Linked DNA regions of Homo sapiens: regions 1, 2 and 3 are each linked to region 4. Evidence: fine-mapped expression QTL. A gene starts in region 4. Each other region holds a variant in brackets. All regions are shown on one strand. Distances are between the middles of the regions.

Evidence for each region.
Region 1: its variant is fine-mapped to the expression of UNC5B in tibial artery (GTEx, PIP above 0.99).
Region 2: its variant is fine-mapped to the expression of UNC5B in whole blood (INTERVAL, PIP above 0.99). The same link has a PIP of 0.9 or more in T cells, blood mononuclear cells and monocytes.
Region 3: its variant is fine-mapped to the expression of UNC5B in whole blood (INTERVAL, PIP 0.95).

Annotation. Positions count from the first base shown.
Region 1 is chr10:71,247,211-71,252,318 of GRCh38, forward strand. All of the region lies in intron 1 of UNC5B (unc-5 netrin receptor B), which reads left to right. It overlaps LOC112268061 (a long non-coding RNA gene), which reads left to right. Exons shown (of 2, transcript XR_002957083.2): 2 at 877-5,108. Among named protein-coding and RNA genes, the nearest start is that of UNC5B-AS1, 32 kb to the left of the region's middle. RefSeq lists an enhancer at 1-382. The variant C/G (reference allele first, on the strand shown) is at 2,037.
Region 2 is chr10:71,232,563-71,237,710 of GRCh38, forward strand. The region is part of intron 1 of UNC5B (unc-5 netrin receptor B); the gene reads left to right. LOC112268061 (a long non-coding RNA gene) reads left to right here. Exons shown (of 2, transcript XR_002957083.2): 1 at 1-5,148. Among named protein-coding and RNA genes, the nearest start is that of UNC5B-AS1, 17 kb to the left of the region's middle. RefSeq lists enhancers at 1-444, 490-1,243, 2,752-3,503, 3,512-4,259, 4,260-5,006. The variant T/C (reference allele first, on the strand shown) is at 2,894.
Region 3 is chr10:71,180,734-71,185,881 of GRCh38, forward strand. No RefSeq gene overlaps it. Among named protein-coding and RNA genes, the nearest start is that of UNC5B, 29 kb to the right of the region's middle. The variant G/A (reference allele first, on the strand shown) is at 2,087.
Region 4 is chr10:71,209,866-71,215,013 of GRCh38, forward strand. It overlaps UNC5B (unc-5 netrin receptor B), which reads left to right and starts at 2,705. Exons shown (of 17, transcript NM_170744.5): 1 at 2,705-3,199. The coding sequence starts at 3,121. RefSeq lists an enhancer at 2,467-2,761 and a silencer at 2,606-2,865.

The DNA.
Region 1 (5,108 bases), 37 kb after region 4:
AGGCCTATCCCTGCCCTGAAGGTGCCTATGGAGTCAGAACAGAGAGGTCACTCAGAGGTGACAGCATCTTGGGCTGCAGAGTGAACATCCAGAACATCAGGGAAGGCTCCCTGGAGCAGGTGCCATTGGCACTGGGTGTACAGAGAGGGCCATGGCTGTAGGGAAGGCACTGTTCCATCTACCCAGCCTTGCAGCAGTCCCCTCCACCCCTGCCCCTACCTGGCTAACATGCGGAGAGGAGAGGTGATTCAGCAGGCCTGGCTTGTTTCTTTCTTGCCCACTGAGGCCTCGCTGTTGGACAGGCTCCCAGACGTTGCAGTCAGCTGGAGGCCTCACCTTCTGAGCTCCCAGACCTGACCCTCTGCACTTTAACCTGGCACCCTGGCCCCAGCTGAGTTGGACTGTTTCAGGAGTCTGAGTCTGGGCCTTCCTCAGCTGTACACCCCCAGTCCCCAGGCCCCAGCATGGATGTGAGCGAGCCACAGCACCCACACTGGGACCTTTGCATGGTTGGGAGTTCTGTGCCATAGAACAAAGAGAAACCAGGCAGTGAGTTCTATAGAAATCAGACCGGGGGCTAAGGGAAGACATGCTTCCTTTTTTGCTTTGCCCTGGGATGTAGGACCCAAGTGAAGTAAGGCTCCCTAGTGATTTGGGGGTCTTACTTGTGTCCTTGAGACCTGGAAAACCCTCTCAAGGCCTCAGGGAAAAGGAGAAAGGATGGGAATGCCGCATCTGCCTTTGGCAAGCTGCTGATTCACCTCCTCCTATGTGGCCTTTACTTTCCTACTCTGTATAATGGGTAGGAGTGGACTCAATTGCCCCCTTCTCTCTCCCCTTTGCCAAAGCCTCTGACTTCTAGCACTGCCTTTCCAGGCTTGTGGTATCTCAGGGAAGGAGATACTGGTTTCACCCTGGGAACCATCCAAGCACCCAGGTCCCTGGTACCAGCTCTCAGCTCTTTGATAGCAGTCTTGGGGCCTCCCTGGGTCCTGTCTCTGAGGAGCAGAAGAGGAGTTGAGCTCCCCCCACTTGCTTCCACCTCTCAGGTAGGCAGCCTTGCCTCTGGCCTTGGCAGCACTTTCCCAAGCAGGGACGCCCTGGGAGCCTATACGGCCAGGAGGGAGGCAATACACACAGCGCCCTGGAGAAAAGCCCCCCGCACCTCCAGAGCAGAATGAGCTAGCGGGAGGCAGGGAGAAGGGGGGCCCACTTTCCCCTTCTTCCCCTGAGTTGGCACTTTTCTCTTTGAGTGTTAAACTCAGCTCTTCCTTTTTCTCCTATTCCTGACAGCCTGTTGAATAATTTAAATATTTGGGCCTAAAGGGCTTCAATTATCCTTTAATTTACATTAGTAATTTATGTATTAGGCAGAATGGACACACGGTTAGTGTAACAACCCCCAGTAGACCGGCTAATATCTGCTGCACTCACCGTTCTTAAGAATCTCATCATTTTTCTTTGCAGCCCAAGGTCTTTGTTTTCAAAGTGGCTCCTAGGCATGCACTTTTACACAGACCTGTGTACATGCTCAGGGGTACACAGCAGAGGATGCCTGAACTCATAGAGAACATTGACATGCACCCACTTACAGGCAGGCACACTGAAGCAGTGGGTACAGGCTCCTCCCTCTCTCTGTCTCTCTCTCTCTCTCTCTCACACACACACACACACACACACACACACACTCATAGATGTAAAACACACACCATGTCAGACCAGCCATCTCCACTCCCACCTGCACCCCACTCCTTCCTGTGGGCAGTATGTACACATATGCTTGTATTTGCATCTGTTGGCCAGGTGATCCCAAACATAGCTCCCTCTGGCAAAGAGGCTACTGGGCCCCAGCATGACATTCAGATGTCCCATTCTGTGTCCAAGCTTTCAGTCCCTTTTTGCACAGCCCTACACAGGCACCTCACCCCAGGGTTGAACGCACTCATGAGAACGTGACCACGGCCACAGCTCCAGTGTGCTCACATGCTGTGGGCTGGCACCAGCTACAAAGTCCTCCTGGGCTTCTCAGGCATGCT[C/G]CCCTCCAGAGCCTGCAGCCTGGGCACCAGTAACCTGGCATGGCCTAAGCTATTGCCCTGACATAGCTAGGCTGCCAAAGGGACCCCATTTGGGATTGCCAATTCCTGGCTGCCCCTCAAAACTTGGCCCAGCTGCCCCAGCACCAGCTTGCAAGGATTGAGGGCTCCCCAGGGGGTGGGGACAAAAGTGACAGAGAGTGATAACCCTATGTGTGAGTGTATATTCCAAGCTTGTTAAGCTGGGTTGGGCCCCTGGTTCTGTGGAACGCACCTTGCACCTCTGTGCCGAGACCATGCTATACAGGTGAGGCCCTTGGGATCCAGAGCCATCTCTGAGAATGTGGCTTTCCAGCTGTCATTTCTAACTCCAGGAGAGTCCCCTGGCATGGTCCCTGGCTCCTCCTACCACCCTCATCTCTCTCCCACAGCCACAAAGCACAGAGCAGGTAGAAGGCAGGTAATGCAGTGGGCAGTGCAGATATCTGATTGGTGGGGTAGTCCATTATACAGAAGGAAAAACCAAGGCTGCAGGAGGTTAGGGCATGGAACAGATAGGTTACTTAGAGAATCTTCTGGAAAGGTCCCTCTTAGGGGCACTGGCCACGTATCCCAGTGCCATGAGGGCTTTTGGAGCCCAGATTTCCCTCTTCCCACTCCAGTGCTCAGGCTGTGGTTCTGGTTGGGATGGGGTGGGGACGTGGTTCCTCTCCCCAAGCATATGTTTAGGCTCAGGAGAACAGCCCAGAGGAGCTAAGTGGAAAGTGTGTGGCCACAGGTGCCCATCTCTGTGCCTCTTCAGGAGACTGCCATGACACCAGGCATCTCACCACTCTTGAGCAGGGCAGAGGTGCTGGGAGCCCATGGCAAACCCCGCTGGGCCTGAGCCACCTGCCTGCTGAAGGCCTCTTACCAGGTGGTGCCCCAGGCCCTGCTCCCCAGGATGCCTTGAATGAAGGGGCAGTGCCGGTGGGGGAGACATCAGAACTCCTTTCCCCCCGGCCCTAGGGATGACCCCGAGCCTCCGGCCGTTCTGCTGGGTCCAAATGGGATACTTCCTACCGGGTTGCATGAGCTAGGCCCCTTCTGGAAGTCCCCATCATTGCCCCTCTCCCAGCCTTGGCCTCTCTTCTTCATCTGTCTGGCCTGGCTTGGGTGTGTGGATGCTTCCTCAAGTCCCAGCTTAATTCCTGACTTTCCGAGGAATCTTTTCCTGATAGCTCCAACCTCCCCAGACCTGTATAGCCTGTACCTCAAAATCTAGGGCAGCAGTGGCAAACGGTTTATCTCAGGTGGCTGTTTTGAAAGTTTGAGGGTGACTTCCCAGGGTGTAGTGTTGAGAAATCTAGGGCCACATCTGGACTCATTTACAGAAGTCAGCATTAATTAGTGATGTCTGCTGTGGTGTGGGATGGGGAGGTGGTGGCTCTCAGGCTGGGCACATGCCAAAACAGATCCAGGGCTAAATTCTAAAGTATTGTTGCTGCGCTGCAGTGGTTTCCTGAAGGGTTATCCCCCTCCTAGCTCCCAGCACTTTGGGGTAGAGATTATAACTTTTCTAATTTATAATCTATGGGAGTATACTTCTGTCTCCTACAGATTCTAATATAGATCTAGATACATAGTAGACACTGAAGAGGGGAATACTTACAGCATGCTAGAGGTGGAAGGAATTCTAGAGATCACTGAGTTCAGGGATGGCAAGTAGGTCTCCTCTTGCTACCAATCCTGAACAAACAGTGATGACTTTCAGGAGATGTGCTGATTCAGAGACTCAGATCTGGCTCAGTTGGGTCAATTAGTGATGTCTGTCATGGGCTCAGCCATGGTAGTAGTTGTACCAAGGTATTGCTATCCCTGTTTTATTTCAGTCTTCCAAATATATTGATATGGAAACTAGGACTCAGAGTGGGTAATCTGTCAGAGGTTACCCCGCTGCTTGCTTGGATGGTTAGAGAATCCTCACTCCTTCCAAAGGAGTTTCCCTGTCAGAGGTCAGGGTAAGGAAGGTAGAATCTTCAAAGCCTGGATAGACAAACTGATGATGTGTCTTTCTGAGACTGGTTCCTACAGCTGTAGTCTTTGTATGTCTTCATGCGGTTTTTAAACTTTTAAACTTTCACCTTTTGATATAGTAGGTGGTAGGTACAATAGAAACGCTGTACATGGCATTTAAAGGCAAATTGGATTTTCTTCTGGCAGCCACCCTGGACTTCAGACTTGCAGGCCCCAGAGCACAGTTTATCTCCCCATCTGCAAGAGCGATTTTCCATTTGCTCCACAATGGGAAATAAGAATCCATCATGTGCCATTGTGTCAGGAAGGTGGTGTCTACTTTAATAAATTTGCTTTTAAATGCTGGCTGTCTCTGGAGATCGTTTCGCTCATGCCTGCAGACAAAGTGATTAAAGTTGCAGAGTATACATGGTTCCTGCAAAGACCCAGAAGGGGTCTTCTCGGTCCATATCTGAAACCCTTGCCACATAGGGGAATGAATGAACCAAGATAATTCCTCTCCTGTGAGAGTCTCAGTGCCACAGGCTGAAGCACACACAGGGAAGAATTGAGGATATTTATTTTTCTTTAAGTTGTTTTCCCCCAGGAAAAAAACCCACAGGCTGGAGATGTATACCTCAAGTCATTGATTTTATTTCCTCTCAAATTGACCTTGCTTTTCTAGGACTTTGCCTCTTTAAGTGTACCAGGTGTGACATCTTTGTAAGTAAATGAAGTGCTGTGTAATGTTCCCCTTCACCTCCTCCAACAAAAAAGTGATTTGAAATCTGGGTTAAAAATAAGTGTCACATATATATATTACAATATTTTCCCAAATGCCTGTGCTTTAAAAATGGGTGAAGGGACAGTTAACATGCTCTTCAGTGGTATCTGAATCTTGAATTTTATTTTTCCAGGTCTAGTCCCTATATAGTTGATCATTCACAGTGACTCTAGGCTGATCTCTTGCCCTCTCTGGGCCTGTTTTGCCATCTATCAAATGGGCTAACTTTGGGCCTGAGCAGCAGGAAGCGTGATAGAGCACCAGGCTGTGAGGGTGGCTCCCTTTTGTGTCTCTGC
Region 2 (5,148 bases), 23 kb after region 4:
GGCTTGGAGCAAATGGGCATGTGATGTCACCGTGAGCTCCGCCAGTTGGCAGCCCTGGCCTTGCTTTGGGTCATTTACATGTCTTCAGTTGGTTAAGAAGGAGCTCTTACTGCCGATTTATTAGTTGCCGCCTGCCTAGCCTTGGTAGCTGTGATAAGGAAGGGGTTTAGGGGCCATGGATGGATGCCAGTCCCCCATGGCCATGCTGCCTCACTTCCCAGCACAGCCTGCCATGCAGCATGTCAGTGAATAAACCAATTCCAGTAGGATGGGGCTTGACAGTTTCCAGGGTGTTCTCATGCAGTCCTCCCAACCACTCTGTGAGATGGGCATGATTACCTTGCTCGTGGAGAGGAAGAAACCAAAGCTCAGGGAGCTTGAGTGCCTTGTACACAAAGCTGCGACCTTACTCCAGGATTTCTGCCAGCTGTGTCTGCACCTGATGGGGGACTTGTGGGCAGGTCGCTGTCCCTCTGAATGTGGTCTGCAGTATTTCTACTTCCACAGCACTTGTCCATTCTGATGGCCTAAATGCCAAGAGAACAGGGATCAAGGACCAGTGTGCCCTGTGACCTTGAGCAAGGTTGTTTCTGCCTCAGACCTCAATTTTCCCAAAGGTAAAGCAAGAGTTGGACTGGGTGGTCTTCCAGGAAGGTAGGACCCCTCGGCTTTTCGTTGCAGGTTTTCAAGTGTGTCCTAGCACCGAGGAGATGAGGATCCTGAGGTGGCCCCATCCCGGGGTCCTGAGGTGGCCCCATCACGGGGTCCACAGTACAAGGTCAATGCACTTGTAATAAATATTGAGCCAACCAATGCTGAGCCGCATCCCTAGCCTCTGAATAAATAAAATGTTGCCCAGAATAACAGCCCGGAAGATGCTGGCGGCTTCAGCCAGCTCTCACCTTTGCCTCTCCCACTGGCCAAGCCTGTCACCCGTCCCTATACTCCCTTGTCTCCCCCTTCCCTCTGCCTCCCCACTCCACGGTCCATCACTCTAGCTCCAGAGGTGGCCACCGTCCCAGCCTGGCTTTAGTTTCTAGCTCTGCAGCCTGCATCTCCCTCTCCCAGCCCCTCAGCTGCCACAGCAGTTAATGAGGACCAACCCCTACAGATGGCAGCTGGGAGACAGGCCAGCCAGGTTCTGGTGGGGCTGGGGTGGGGCACAGGGAACTGGAGGTGGGGCACAGGGGAGTGTGCCTTTAATCCCCAGCACCAGACAGAAGCCTTTCCTTCTTTGTCAGGACCCTTGCTGGCATTTCCTCCTGCAGCCCATCCCTGGGAGATGAACTGGTCCAACTCCTGCAGGAGGCCAGCCCACTCTAACTGCTCTTGGCTGAGGCCGCCAGGAGATTAGAAACAGGGTCCACAAAGGAACCTGGTCCCAGGGTGCTCCAGGCCACACAGGCACACTTGATTTGATGCTTCTCTGCCTGATGAGTGTGCAAGTACAGTTATATGTGTTATATGGCTCCCTTCTTTTTACGGTTCAAGTTTCTCAGGGGCAGAGCCGGTTAGGTCAAGTGTGAAGTTACAAAATGTTAGCACTGAAGAGATATCTTCCTCATTTTATAGATGAGGAAATTAACCTCGGGGGTGGGGGGCGGAGATAAGGACACTTGCCCAGGGTCACACAGCCAGGAAGCAGCAAAAGAGCCTGGATTTGGAGCCTGATTAGGGCCTGTGCCCTTGGCCCGCACTTGACACCGCCCCCTCCAGGGGCTTTTGCTGGGGCCCTCACGGAGATGAGGCTTCATTCTTGAGATTCAGGCCTGGCCCAGAGAAGTCCAAGCCAGGGAATCGAAGCTTCTTGGTCCCAAGGTTTATGGACTGCCCTGGGGAAACAGTACCCCATCGGAAAACCTGCTCTCTGCTCTATGAAAAGGACCTTCACCATGTTGTGGGGTTTCACTGAAAAGTATTCTGGGGACCAGCATAAGAAGCAAAGCCCCTTGTATGACCTTCCTTTGGTCTGTCAAGCTGTGTGAGAACCAGCAGGGAGCCCCTGGGGTGGGAAGCTCAAAGCCCCAGGCAGAACACACCTTCCCTTTGCAAGGCACTTTCTAGATGGAATCCCTGGGGAGAAGCCTAATAGCTCAGTGCAAGAGGCGTGTGGGGTTTCATCCCCATTCTACAGGTGAGAGCACCTAGATGCAGCTAGAATACTTGGCCAGAGTCTTGTGGCTAAGACAGTTCCCCAGCCAGTTCCAGGCTGCTGGGTCTGGGGGCCCTGCTGCCTTGTTAGGAACTTGGGAGACTTGGAAACCTGGGCCTCTCTTCCTCTGCTCTATTTGCAGAGGTCCCAGGGTCATTCTGAACACATCAGGGAGACTCATCCTAAAAGCTGGGTTGAGGGGACAGGATTTGGCATCCAGATCCCCTCCCCAGCAGGCCAGATAGATTCCCACTGGTCTCCTGGCCCAGAAGGAGAGGCCAGCCCTTCCCACCCCCAGCGCCCAGGGGGGCCCCTCCTCCCCCGGCCTGGCTGCAATGCCGGGCCCCTATTGCAGGACTCGCTGCCGCTGCCTCTGACTCTGCCTCTGCCTCTGCCTCTGCCTCTGACAGACATCCCGCCCCAGAAGATAAGGATCCTGTCTGGCGCCGGAGTGCTTTTTTTCCTCCTTCTTTCCAAATCTGTTCCCTGATTATCTGCAGACAGCCCCTCGCTAGGGGAGCCACCAGGGAAGGGGCCCAGACCACAGAGAAAGACAGGAGGGGTGGGACTAACAGGCCTGCAGCCACCAGCCCTTCTGAACCCCTCTGGGGGCTTGATGGTCATTTGCTGAGCCCCCACTGTAGCCAGAGCCCTGAACTCAGCAGAGAGCTGAGGACTGGTTTCCCTGGGTGGGACTGACCCACTTCAGCGGGAAGAAGAGGGTATGTGGACTGGAGGTTG[T/C]GCCAGCGTGGGCTGGGATGGGGACAGAGGGTGGGGTTCCTTCCGTGGTCAGCGTTCCTCAGCCTTGGGCCTGGAGAGCACCCAGAGGGGATGTGGTAGAGGCTTCAGCCAGCCAGACGGCCACATCCTGTGGGAGACATTGGCCCTTCCCAGGCCAGACGGTGGGAGGACACTTAGGGACTGGTAGGGGGGTCCTAGGGGGTTCCCGGAGCCCAGCCTCCAGCCCTGAGGACTGAGCTTAGAGAATGGCCAGGGCTGGTGTGGCCTCTTGGCCTCAACCTGAAAAGGAAGGGCAGCTCCCCACCAACTGGGCTTCAGACCAGGCACCATTGTGGAATTCCAGCCTTAGAGTGCCCAAGCCGCTGAGAGCCCTAGAGAGCACCTGGTCGCATCTGGGCCATCTATAGACAGAGGGACCCATGTGGAAGGCAAAGGGATCATCCCCACCTCGCCCACTGGCATGTCAGGAGCCTGCAGCATGGGTCCTACTGCCCTGGGAGCTGGGAGCCCTAGTTCAGGTCCACACTCTGCCACTAATACGCTGTGTGACGTTAGGCAAGTTCCTTTCCATCTCTGGGTCTCACTCGTCAACTGTAAACTGAAGGGGCCTTCTGGTCGGGGCAGGAGGGAACAGTGGAGATCTGAGTCCAAAGACCTTTCCAAACTTTGTCAAACTCCTCAGGGTTGTTGTAAGATTCAATGAGATATTGAAGGTGACACCTTGGCTTACAGTAGGTGCCCCATAAGTATGAGTATGTCCAGCCCTTGACAGCTCAGACTAGGGACCTCAGGACTGGGCAAAGCCTGGGCAGTTGAGTTCCCCTCTGTGAGAATGTGCTTGTGTAGCCTTAGAGAAAGACCCTACACCTTCCCTGCCCCCAGCATCCCTTGCCATGCCCGCCCTGCCTCACCTAAAACATGTGGGGGAAGGGAAGCAATGCAAGATCATTTTTTATGGCTTCCTGGCCCTGGAGCCAGAGGGCTGAGGATCGGGTGGTGTGGGCCGGATTCCTGAGCCCCCCTTCAGAGCCAGCTCGTAAATATGAAGCCGGGGCAGGGAGGAGCTGGCTGTTAAGCTGTCAGCAGAGGCCCATTTAGAAAGTCGTAAAGCGTTTCTCAGAGCTCCTCAGAGCTGGGACCCAGGGCCCTCCCGCCCCACACTGACCGGCAGTGGCCTCCTCATTCATGGGTGCTGGGCTTCCCTGCCCGAGCCCCCACTGGAGACTCCCTGGCTCTTGCCATTAGCTGTGCCTTGGTTTCCTCTCTGTGCAAAGGAAGTCTGCTCTGCTTCTCCTCTGGGAGAATGGATGGGGAGGTCCAGTGAAGCCCTCAAGAGGCCAGAGGGACCCTGGTCCTGAGAGCAGTGAACCCCCATATTTATCATTCCCTTCTCTGTGCCTCGCTCCAAGGGGACCCAGAACCTACCCCCAAGGAGCTCACAAAATTCCACTTAGGAATGAGAGAAGATGCATGCCCCTGAAGAGAACGCCCACATTTTCTCCAGCTCAGAGGAGTGAGCTCCACGGCTGGGATGTGGAAGGCTTCCTGGAGGAGGTGGAGGTGTAGATGGGGGCTCCAGGGTATTCAGAGGTTTGGAGAAGAGGCAGGAAGCACAGGTGGTGGGCAAACAGGCCTGCCTGGGCGGAGGGTAGCTAGGATCCCAGGCTGGGTGTGGAATAGCAAAGGCCACAGAGCCTGTGAGCAGAGGCCCACTCTGGGGACCAAGTGCACGTTCCCTAATGACCCCTGTTTGCCTGGTCACCAAGACTCGTGTTTATGTGGAAAAGCTCTGGCAACAGCATGGGTTCAAATACTACCCTCCCTGCTTCCAAACCACGTGTTCCTGGACAGTTTAGCCCATGTGAGCCTCGTCTTCAACCACAAAGTGGAATTAATAGCAATCTACCCCATAACGTCTCCATGAGGTTTAAATGAGATTTTAGAGAGAGAGCCGTCTCACTCAGTGCTTGGGCATTTTTGGAGTTGGTTAGCCTGGGTCTGAAACTCGGCTCTGCCTCTTACTGACCATGTGCCCTTGGGGTCACCTCTTAAGACCTCAGTTCTCTCATCTGTAAAGTGGGGGTAAGAGCAGTGAGACGTCAATAAGTAAATACACGGGAAGTCCTCAGCACAAAGCTGGCAATCCTGAGTGCATTAACTATTATTATGCAAGGTGTTCCTGCAGCACCTAGTGTGAAGGAGGTGCGGTGAAGTCCGTATTGGAAGCCTCCTGCCTCCATCTCCAGCCTGTGGCC
Region 3 (5,148 bases), 29 kb before region 4:
TGTTTCAAACCTTTGGCATGCATCAGAATACCCTGGAGGGCTTGTTAAACCAAGACTGCTGGGCCTCATCCCCAGAGTTTCTGAATCAGTAAGTATGGGCTAGACCTGGAGAATTTTCATTTCAAACATGCTCCCAGGTGGTTCCACTATTGCTAGTTTGCAGCCCACACATTGAGAACCACTGTTCTGGAGCCTCTGGAGGTGGAAAGGGCCAGTGCCGCCCCTTTAATGAAGGCATGGGCGGAGCTGGGCTCATGGGAATAGCTTTAGTACTTTAGGGTTGATTCCTTGGGATTGGCTAAGGAGAGTGGCCCGCATTGATTTTGAAGGGCTTTGGGGTCCCCTAGGACCTCAGCAAAACTCAGGGAGTCCTACTGTCTCTTGGGAATGGGAAGGCAGTGCTGGTTGTCTGATTCCTGGATTAGGGTCCAGGCAGGTGGGAGAAGGAAGGCAGAAGAGGTTGCGGGAGTGTGGAGCACATCCTGGAAATCCAGGAGCTGGGGTCTAGGCCCAGCTCTGCCACCAACACCTTTGGGGACACTGTCAGTTACTTGCCGTCCTTGAATCTTGTCTTGCCTCAGACAGAGTGCTGAGACTGGACCATATTTTTGATGAGTTCGGGCAACATTTATTATTGAGTGCTATTTGAGTGTCAAGCACTGTGCTTGGTGCTAAAAGGTAGAGGTAAAAGATGGAGCCCTTTGCTCTGGAAGAGTTTGCAGCCTGGTGGGGGCGTGACAGGGAAGCAGTGATCAGGATCCATGCAGGGTGGGGAGTGCACTGGTGAGAGCCCTGGGGAGGCTCTCCTGTGGTCCCCTGGGGTTCTTTCCAGCCCCAGACCTGGTGTGGGGCAAGGGGTCTCCCCAGCTCTGGAAAACACCCACACCAGCTTTCACAGGGACAGAGGGATATATATTTTTTTGACTTTTAAAAAACATGTTCATGGGTACATAGCAGGTATATATATGTATGTGGCCTATGAGATATTTCGATATGGGGTAATATTTAAATGAGATGCAAAATCAAGCTTTTAAAACTCTCTACTACCCCGGGGAGGCTCAATCTAAGGTAGACTGTGAGCCTGTGGGAGGTGGGTCTGTTTTCATCATTTATCTGTTTATCGGCTACCAAGTGTCACAGGTCAAGATGCTGATGCCCAGGCTCCAGCCCAAGGCAATAGAAGCAGAATCAAGGGGTTCTCTGTGCAGAACCCTTGGTTGGCTGGAGAACCATTGATCTAGATTGGGAGGAAAAAGTCTTCCAAAAGCCCGGAAGAGGCAGTGCAACTCCGGCAGGGGTCCAAGGAAGGTAAAGCACCCCACGCGACTGCTGGAGACGGGCGAGGAGTGAGAGGCAGGTGGGAAGGTGGCTTCAGCCAGTTTCCCCAAGGACCTTCCTTACAAAACTGAGGTGCTAGGCTGTTTTTCATGGTTAACAGGGAGCCATTGAAGGCCCCCAAGGAAGGATATGATATGTTCAAAGCTGAGTACCAGCCATGGCAGCCTCTGCTTCCTCCTGCCTCTTCCCTTACTCCTAGATTCTACTTCCACCATGTGACAAAAAGAAAAGCGCTTGGGCCTTGCAGCCCGTTCTGTTAGAAAATGCAGGTTTGGGGTGTATATTGGTGGACCAGCAAGAAAGGAAGGGGGCCCCAGAGTCCTGCCCCTTCAAAACCATTGACAATTTCTGTGTGGCCTTGGGCAAGTAGGTCAGCGTCTCTCAGCCCCGGCGGCCAAATTCCTGCCTGCCCAGGAATACACAATGTACAGAAGCACACTTTGAAAAGGTGAGAGCTGGACTCAGAAGCAAGGTCAACGTAAAAGGAAGAAGCTAAAGCACAAAATGTGATTTCAAAAAGTTTACTTGAGCCAAAGTGAGGACAGCTGCCTGGAAGACTCAGACCCAAGGAAGCTTGGTTATGAGCTCCAGTTCACCTTACAGGCAGGTTTTTAAAGGCAAAAAAATAAGAGAACAGGGAGCGGACTGATACAAAGTTATCAGGAATTCTCGTTAGTTTACAGAAATAACTTGATTAGCGACTGGCTATACATTAAGCTACAGAGTGTGGGACGTAGCGTCCAGTGAG[G/A]CATTTTTAGGTTAATTCATAGTTACCTGGGGCAACAGCAAGCAGTTTCAACAGATGAACAGGGGAAGTAGGGCATGGTTGCTGTCTCATTTTAGTGCCTCTCTGGGCCTAATAATTTGGTTTTTTTGAGACTGAGTCTCGCTCTGTGGCCCAGGCTGGAGTGCAGTGGCGCGATCTCAGCTCACTGCAACCTCTGCCTCCTGGGTTCAGGCAATTCTACTGTCTCAGCCTTCTGAGAAGCTGGGACTACAGGCGCACACCACCACGCCCAGCTAATTTTTGTATTTTTAGTAGAGACGGGGTTTCACCATATTGGTCAGGCTGGTCTCGAACACCTGACATCAAGTGATCCACCTGCTGCGTGAGCCGCTGCGCCCAGTGCTGTGCCTAATAATTTGAAAAGGCTCACATTCCTCAGGTAACTGTTGTTTTCTTTCCTTAGTATCCTTTGATAAGCCCAGCTGGACAGGCAGGGCTAAGGGACCAAGGAATCAAGTGACTGGAAGAACATTTGAAGAAGATCACTTCCTGTTAAGTCCCAAACCTGGGCAAAGCGTAAGGACAGGTAGGGTCAGCACATCTGTTTTTCATGATCCCAAGCTCAAATGTGAGAAGGAGGTAGCAGGGGTGATGTGAAATAGAAAACAGATGAAACATTGGAAAGAGCCAGATAATGATTTCAGGAGCGGCCCAGCCACAGGTGTGGAGAGGGGAGGCCAGACCCTCAGGGGCCCCTCCCAGATGAGGCCTATCTGGAAAGATGCAATTGCACACGTTTTAAGGGGAATCACCTGAGAACCGGAGTAGGGGGGTGTGGAGTAGAGGGTTATGAGGAGGAGTTTCTTCTTCTGAATTCAAGTCCCAATTTTGCTGTGTGACCTGGACACATACTGATACCTCTCTGGGCCTCATCAGTGCTAATTTACCAGTTCCCCCTAATTAGGTAAGAACTGGACCCTTGCTAGGGTCATGAAGACATTGCTCTGATCAAATTGGTGGTGCAAAGTGGTGAGATGAGCCTAAGATGGGTGATGAGAAATGAAGGAGTAATTTAAATAACAAGTGTCCTTCAAAGTGATTCCTGGCTCCCAGCCCCATCTCAGCCTCAGTCCCTGAGCCTCTGAACTGCCCCACTCCGCCCAGGTTCTCAGCCCAGGGCAGCCCATGCTGCTGGTCCCGTCCTACCCACCCACCTCTAGTTCCTGGCTTGGGACAAGTCCACCTTTTAAGCCCTAGCTTTAGGGACTGGCTTTACCTAGGTGAAATTATTGTCCCCAAGGATGGGCCCACTGGTAACTATGGAGCCAAGGAGTACAGGTAAGGCTGTCAGGCCCCAGACCCACACTCCAGCCTCCCATGCTCCACTTCCCTATGTCCACACCCTCAATTCTGCTGGGGGTCTAGAACCACAGCCTCAACTTGGCTGCTTTTCTTTTTTAAATTTAGTCACAACAACGATCTACAGTAGCATCAGATAGTGCAGGTCATGGTAATGTAGCAACTGCAATGCCCCTGTCCCCTAACCAAGATAGCAGGGAAACAGCGTGGTGATTAAGAAGTGTGTCTCCTATTTTCGTCACACACATGCTCAAGTGCTCAAGAGGAGCCAGGTGCTTCCACGATGGCCTCTGCCTGCACTCGCCCCATAGCCCAGCAAAAGAGGTGCACCTGAGGCTCTGGGCCACTGATCTGGAGTTGTAGAAGGGCAGAGCCAGGATCCCCATGCCGGGCTGTGCTTTTCCCCAGCAGTCCACAGCTTTGCCACCGGCAGGACTGAGCTCCTCTCTGGCCTCAAAGTCCCCCTAGATAATGCGTGTACTTTGTTCTGCTCAGCCTTCATCAGGGTGGTCAGGAGGAGCTCAGGAAGGGTGACCTGAGAACCTCACCAAGTTCCCTGTGGCTTATCCCAGCTCTGCAGACAGCAGCGGGAAAGTTTCACTCCACAGCTCCCTCTCCCCTGCAGCTATGGGAGCAAGTACCACTCCAGATTTGATGAAAGCCACATGCCAGGAAACCTTTAAAACCCACTTTGGTGCCAGGCACAGTGGCTCACACCTGCAGTCCGAGCACTTTGGGAGGCCAAGGACGATGGATCACCTGAGGTCAGGAGTTTGAGACCAGCCTGGCCAACATGGTGAAACCCCATCTCTACTAAAAATACAAAAATTAGCCGGGTGTGGCGGCACATGCCTGTAATCCCAGCTACTTGGGAAGCTGAGGCAGGAGAATCACTTGAACCCGGGAGGCTGAAATTGCAGTGAGCTGGGATTGTGCCACTGCATTCCAGCCTGGACGACAGAGCCAGACTCTGTCTCAAAATAATAATACCCCCTTTGGAGCAGGGGAGTGTAGTGTGGGATTGAGATGTGGAGTTTCATACACTTAAATTTGAGTTATGGCTTCCACATTCGTTGTCTATGTGACCTTGGGCAAGTTGCTTAACCTCTCTGAGCCTTAGTGAGCTGGTTTAGTTTAGTTTAGTTTTTTTTTTTTTTCACTTTTTTGTTTTCTCTCTTATGCAAGGATAATGCTACCTCACAGGGATGTTGTGAGGCTTCAACATGATAGTGAAATAACAAGCTCAACAGGTGGCAGTCCGACCACTGACATTAGTGTTGGCAGCATCAATTTGCCATAGACAAAGTCTAGCCATGGAAAGCTTGGCTTAGACCCTACCCAGATGGCCTCACTACCAAAGACCAAAGAGGCTCTGAACCCAGGTGGTCCACTGATGAGACGCTATTAAAGAGTGACCCCGTGGGCTGTGTCCTACAGACTCTAGTGAAGCCTGTGCTTGTGGCCCTGCCCTTTAGGGGCACCCCTAAGCCTTTCCTTCCACCATCCCAAACTGCCCAGCCTGTGACACCTGCTGAAAGCCAAGCCCCTAGACGTCAGCCTCTGTCTGGAACTAGGAATAATAACAATACATTCCCACACTAGCCCTAAAGCTGGGAAGAGCTCATGAGCCGTCTAGTCCAGCACTCCTATTTTACAGAGGAGGAAACAAGACACAGAAGGAAGCCACACAACTCCCACAGCTGAGGCTTCCTGACTCCCAGCCC
Region 4 (5,148 bases):
GAACACAGGGCACCTGACTTCAAGCAACTCACTGCTTCGTCCTCATGCTTAACTCCCAGCAGGATGCCTTTGCTGTGAGGCCCATGGCACTCGGTTTGGGAACACCCTGGCAAATCTTAATCCTGCTATCCTAATGTGTCATCCCCCAGGCAGGGACCCTGCCCATTCTTCACCCATCCCGGGGAAAGGTATGGCTCAGGGGGAGTCTGACTCCCTCTGAAGCCCCTTGCCTGGCCTCAACTGACAGCCTGCACTCTTGAGATGCCAGGGCTGGAGAGGAACCACATCTGCAACTGCTCAGCTGCAGGTGGCTAGAGAAGGCTCAGAGACTTGGTACAGGAGCAGGGGCACAGAGCAGTTACAGAGAGATTCCCAACATGCAAAATCCCATGCCCTGATGCTGGAGTCCTGGAGGGAGAGCAGGGCCCGGGACCTCCCAAGAGTATATTTCAAGAGTTGAGAGAGTGGTTAGGCTGAGAAGGGAAGTGGGGCAGGGACTGGCAGGAGAGGGGGTAATGTCTTCCTTTTGCTTGCCCCCATCTCCAGTCCCCCTTCTCTCCACCCAGGAATTAAAGCCGTGAAACCTGATACTTGGACTAGAAGGGCCTGCTGGGTACACTTTACCACCTAAACAGCAAAGTTCCAAGGGGTGGAACTTTTTAGAAAAATCTCCAATACCCCACTGGCCTGAAGGAGAGAGAGAAAGAGGTTGGGGAGAGAGAGAGAACATGCTGTGGTCTCTGCATGCTGCCCGTCTCTGCTGAGGTCCCTGCTGAGCTCTCCAGCACAGGCACAACCTTGACCATGTGCCTGCATCCAGGGGATGACCGTCAGATGTGGGTCTTGGCACAGGCGTGCCTGTATGTGTTTCCTGGCAGTAGTTAAGTATCCAAATATCTATTTGTCTTGGGAGTCATCTGCCTATTTGTGTTTTTAGTTGTGTGCGCCTGTGTGTTTGCTTTTTTTAGGCATACATCTTTGGTATGTGGGTGTCTCTGGAGTCGGGTGCCTATTTGTAGGTGTGATGTTTATGGGAGGTGAAACATTGCACCTGTTGTCTTTGTTGTATGTTTTCGTGTGTGTACCTTTGCAGGTGTGTATGGGTGGGTAGTTGTGTGTGTGCATGTGTATTTGCAAGGTGGAGTTGGTTTGGGTGTGCTGAGCTGTTGACTGTCTCATCCACTGCCCTTGCTAGGGCTGTCAGAGGCCAAGCTAAGCAACCTACCTTTGCCCACAGCAGCCTTTCTCAATTGATGGAAGTTCTTCCCCCAGGGAGTCCCAGTCCACCTGTTGCCACCCTCCTGATGCTGGGTGCCCAGTCAGAGAGGGTTAGGGAGATGTGCTGATGGCATGCACGACCTCCCCTAGATACTCCAAGACCCCGGCTTGTGAGGGGAGTGTGTGTGGAGAGGGTACTAGTCCTGCCTTCACCTCACCTCTGGGGAAACAGCTAGGACAGTCCCCTTCGCACAGCCCAATCCAGCCCCAGGGAAGGTGTTCAAGTGAGGCTCCCCCGTTTAGAGGGTTTCTTTCCAATCCCATCTCCCCCATCCCCTTTGCTCAGTCACTCAGTCACTCCAAGCAGTGTGATCTCCGGCAGGTGGCTTTACACCTCTGTGCCTCAGGTCCTTCATCTGTAAAATGGGATGTAAATGGTGCTTACTTCAGAGGGTTGTGAGAATTAACTGACATGATGCATACAGAGTGCTTAGCCCTGTGCCTGGCACAGGGAAGGTCTTTGCCTATGTTAGCTGATCCGCTCGTTCTGATCTCTCTGGGTTTCAATCCCAAGACACTGCCCATCCTTCAAACCTCACCTGTCCCCACGTGCTCCTTGGACCACCTTTGGGTGGTCAGGACTTTCCCCCTGGAATCAGACTGGCTGGGAGGGGAGAATCTTGGAAAGAGATTATTGACACTTGCACTGCAATTTCCACACAAGTTTTAAAATTTAATTCTATACCCCCTTATGAAATAGTTATCCTTTTCCTCCATTTTACAGATGATGATGAAGGGAGCAATAGAATTGTTAAGTAACTTGTTCAAGGTCACACAGTAAATAAGGGGCAGAGTCCAAGTTTACACTGAGCCAAAAATGGCTGTCCCACTGTCAGGTAGGAGGCTAGTTTACAACAACGCAGGATCAGAGTGCTGGAGGGGTTTCCAGGGGTCTGGTTAACAGTTCTGCCGGAGATCATACAGACAAGCAGAGCCAGCCAGGATGATCCTAATCTATACCCAGCTTCATATCGCTGTAAGCCCCCGCGTAACCAGGACTTGGGTGTTCTCATTTTGGGAGCCTTTTTTTTGGAAAGACCCCCACATGTGGAAGGCAGAGCGCATACTACAGACAGGGGAGCCAAAAGTGAGAGTCCTATGTTTAATCAGAGGAGAAAGCTGACATGGCCAAGCCAAATGAAGGCGCAAAGCCAGATTTCCTTAATTTGGGGGAGCGAAAATTGGGCCGCCTCCACGTCCAGCCATTCTCCAGCGGCCGGGTTTTTCAAAACGCTGCGCCCAGCGTCTCGCGAGGACCCTCCCCCCGGGTCCCCCAGCTCTGCCGCGGCCGCGCCCAGATGGCCGTCGGATCCCCCCTCAAGGTCCCCCTGTCGGCTCCGCCCTCGGTCGCCCAGGCCCCGCCCCGGCCGCGCGCGGTCCCCTCGGTTGGCGAACTCACTCCGGCGAGCGAGCGGCGGCGCTCGGCATTGTGGCAGGCGGCTGGGGCCGGCTAGGGCGCCGGAGCCGCACGCAGCCGCGGGGCTCCGAGAGGCGCGCACTGGGGCTGGGACTGCGCGGCGCCGCCGCTGCGAGCGCCACTGAGCGGTCGCGCAACTTCGGAGGCACAGCGCCGGAGCCAGGCGAGCGCTCAGAGACCCGGAGCCAGAGGGGCGCGCCGGAGCCTCGTTCGAGAGCCGGCGCCAGGCACCCACCGCGCTCCGAGTGCCAGGCGGCCCTCCGCGCAGCGTGGCTTCCGCTGCCCCCACGGAAGGCACGGGCTGGCGCTGCCGGGCGCCGGGGAGGACGGCGAGGAGGAGGCGGCGGCGGCGGAGACGGCGGCGGCGAGACTGGGGCCAGGGAGACAGCCCTGGGGGAGAGGCGCCCGAACCAGGCCGCGGGAGCATGGGGGCCCGGAGCGGAGCTCGGGGCGCGCTGCTGCTGGCACTGCTGCTCTGCTGGGACCCGAGGCTGAGCCAAGCAGGTAGGAAGCGATCGGGTCTGGGGGCGCGGGGCTAGGGGACCCTTGCGCCTCACTCTGTCCTGAAGTTGAGGTGGTCTTTCGTCGCATCGATGCGCGCAGGAAAAGCGGCAAGGGCGCCCAAGTTAGAATGTAGATTTTACTGCCTCCCAAAGTGGGCAATGGCGCATCCACATCGCGGGAGCGGGGAGCAGGGAAGGGGCTTCACAGTAAGCTGAAAGGTCCCTGCTCGCTCCTGAAAGGGATCCCTTCTTCTCCCTGGAAGGGGTGTAGGAGTCAGGGTCTGAGTCTCCGGGAGGATCCGCCTCCTGGGGACGCCCGGCTCTCCGCGCGCCTGGCATCCGCCCCGAAAAAGAACATTGGCTACATAAGCAAGGTGTGCGCTCGCTGCCGTACGCCGGTAACTTACTAGTCTGGTCCCGGCTCGCCTAGGCTCTTACGCGCTATAGGGACAGCAATCTGCAGACTAGAGGGAGAGAGCGAAAAGACCTGCTGAACACAGGAAGCGCTTCGGTAGCCTCGGCAGGCCGGCTTGCAGGGCTCCTGAAGCGGGGAGGGCTAAGTCTTGCACACATAGCTTTCCCCGAGATCGCTGGGCCCGCAGGTCTGGAAGAATTATTATTATTATTATTATTATTATTATTATTAATTTTCTGAGTGTTGGAGAGTGTGTGTGTGTGTGTGTGTGTGTGTGTGTGTGTTGGATGCGGGTAGGGGTTCTTAGCGATCCTGCGGAGTTTCCTTTTAAATTGGTCACTGACATTCTCGCTGTCCGGGGAACAGACTAGGTGCGCTCTCCTTGGTACAGCGCCCGCTCTGGACCCACCAAGATGACTTCAGCGAACTGGTGGGCTCCGAAATAAAGTCCCTAACCCTCCTCTCTCGCCGTGGATGAATACGTTTCTCGCTCGTCCTGTAGCTGGACCCGGCGTCGCTGGCTGGGCTGCGTCTTCTCGGGGAGGCTGTGGACTGAATGGAGCCAGCCTCTCTCTGGTACCCGAACCCAAGCAAGTGGGCTGGCCACGGCTGCCGGGCGGCTCGGCTCCGGAGCCAGGTGGGGACGGGGCCTCCTGCACGGAGTCCTCTCTGAGTTGAGGCTGAGAATGGAGCAGGAAAACTGGAGCAGAAAGTGGACGAGATGACGCAGCCCTCCCCACCTCCTACCTCCTGCTGCGAAGTTGACATCCGCCCTTCCCCCCTCCATAGCCAAAGATTCCTCATTCTGGAATTAGTGATTCCCACGGCCAGGAGTGAGGGCTTGGCTTTAGCACATTCCCCACTTTTTTTTTTTTTTCTGGTGCAAGTCCTGTGCAGTAGAGTTACAACACTCAACCATTTGATCCAAGTTAATTATGATTTGGGCAGACTCTGGTATTTAAAGCAGTGTTTTGAAGTTGGAAGGTAATGATGGGGATGGGGAAGGCAGGCTGCTGAATGTCCAACCTTGTTTTAAAGGGTGCAGTTAGACGTGGGAGGTGCTTGGTTGGGGTGCTGGTTTCTGGTTGGAGGGGGTTTGAGGAGATGATTGAAGGGTAGGGTGAAGTCTCTGTAAATGGCACATGGGCAGGGTTGTGTCTTGGGAAGCTGCTTTTGTACCAGCAGGACAGTGGGATCAGGAATAAATACTTAGGTTACCAGGAATGAGGGGCTGCTGTAGGAGAAAGACAAGACTGGTTGGCCTATAGTTCTCTGGGTGGGTGGGCTTGGCCAAGAAGGCTGGGGGTGGCCTGCATTTCCTGCTTAACAAAGCATCCAGCCCCCACCTTCCCCAGAAGAAACCCCAGGCCCAGGGCTTTGATGGATTTGGGCACGAATGGTGCCCAGTCAGAAATGGCCTCTAATACCCGGCTTTGATTTCTCACCAGCGAGCAGAAGCGGTGTTGGAATTGTGCTCATTACTTAGTGCGGCAGTAGCTGCCTGCCCACCAGCCTGGAGAGGGGCCAACTGGTGG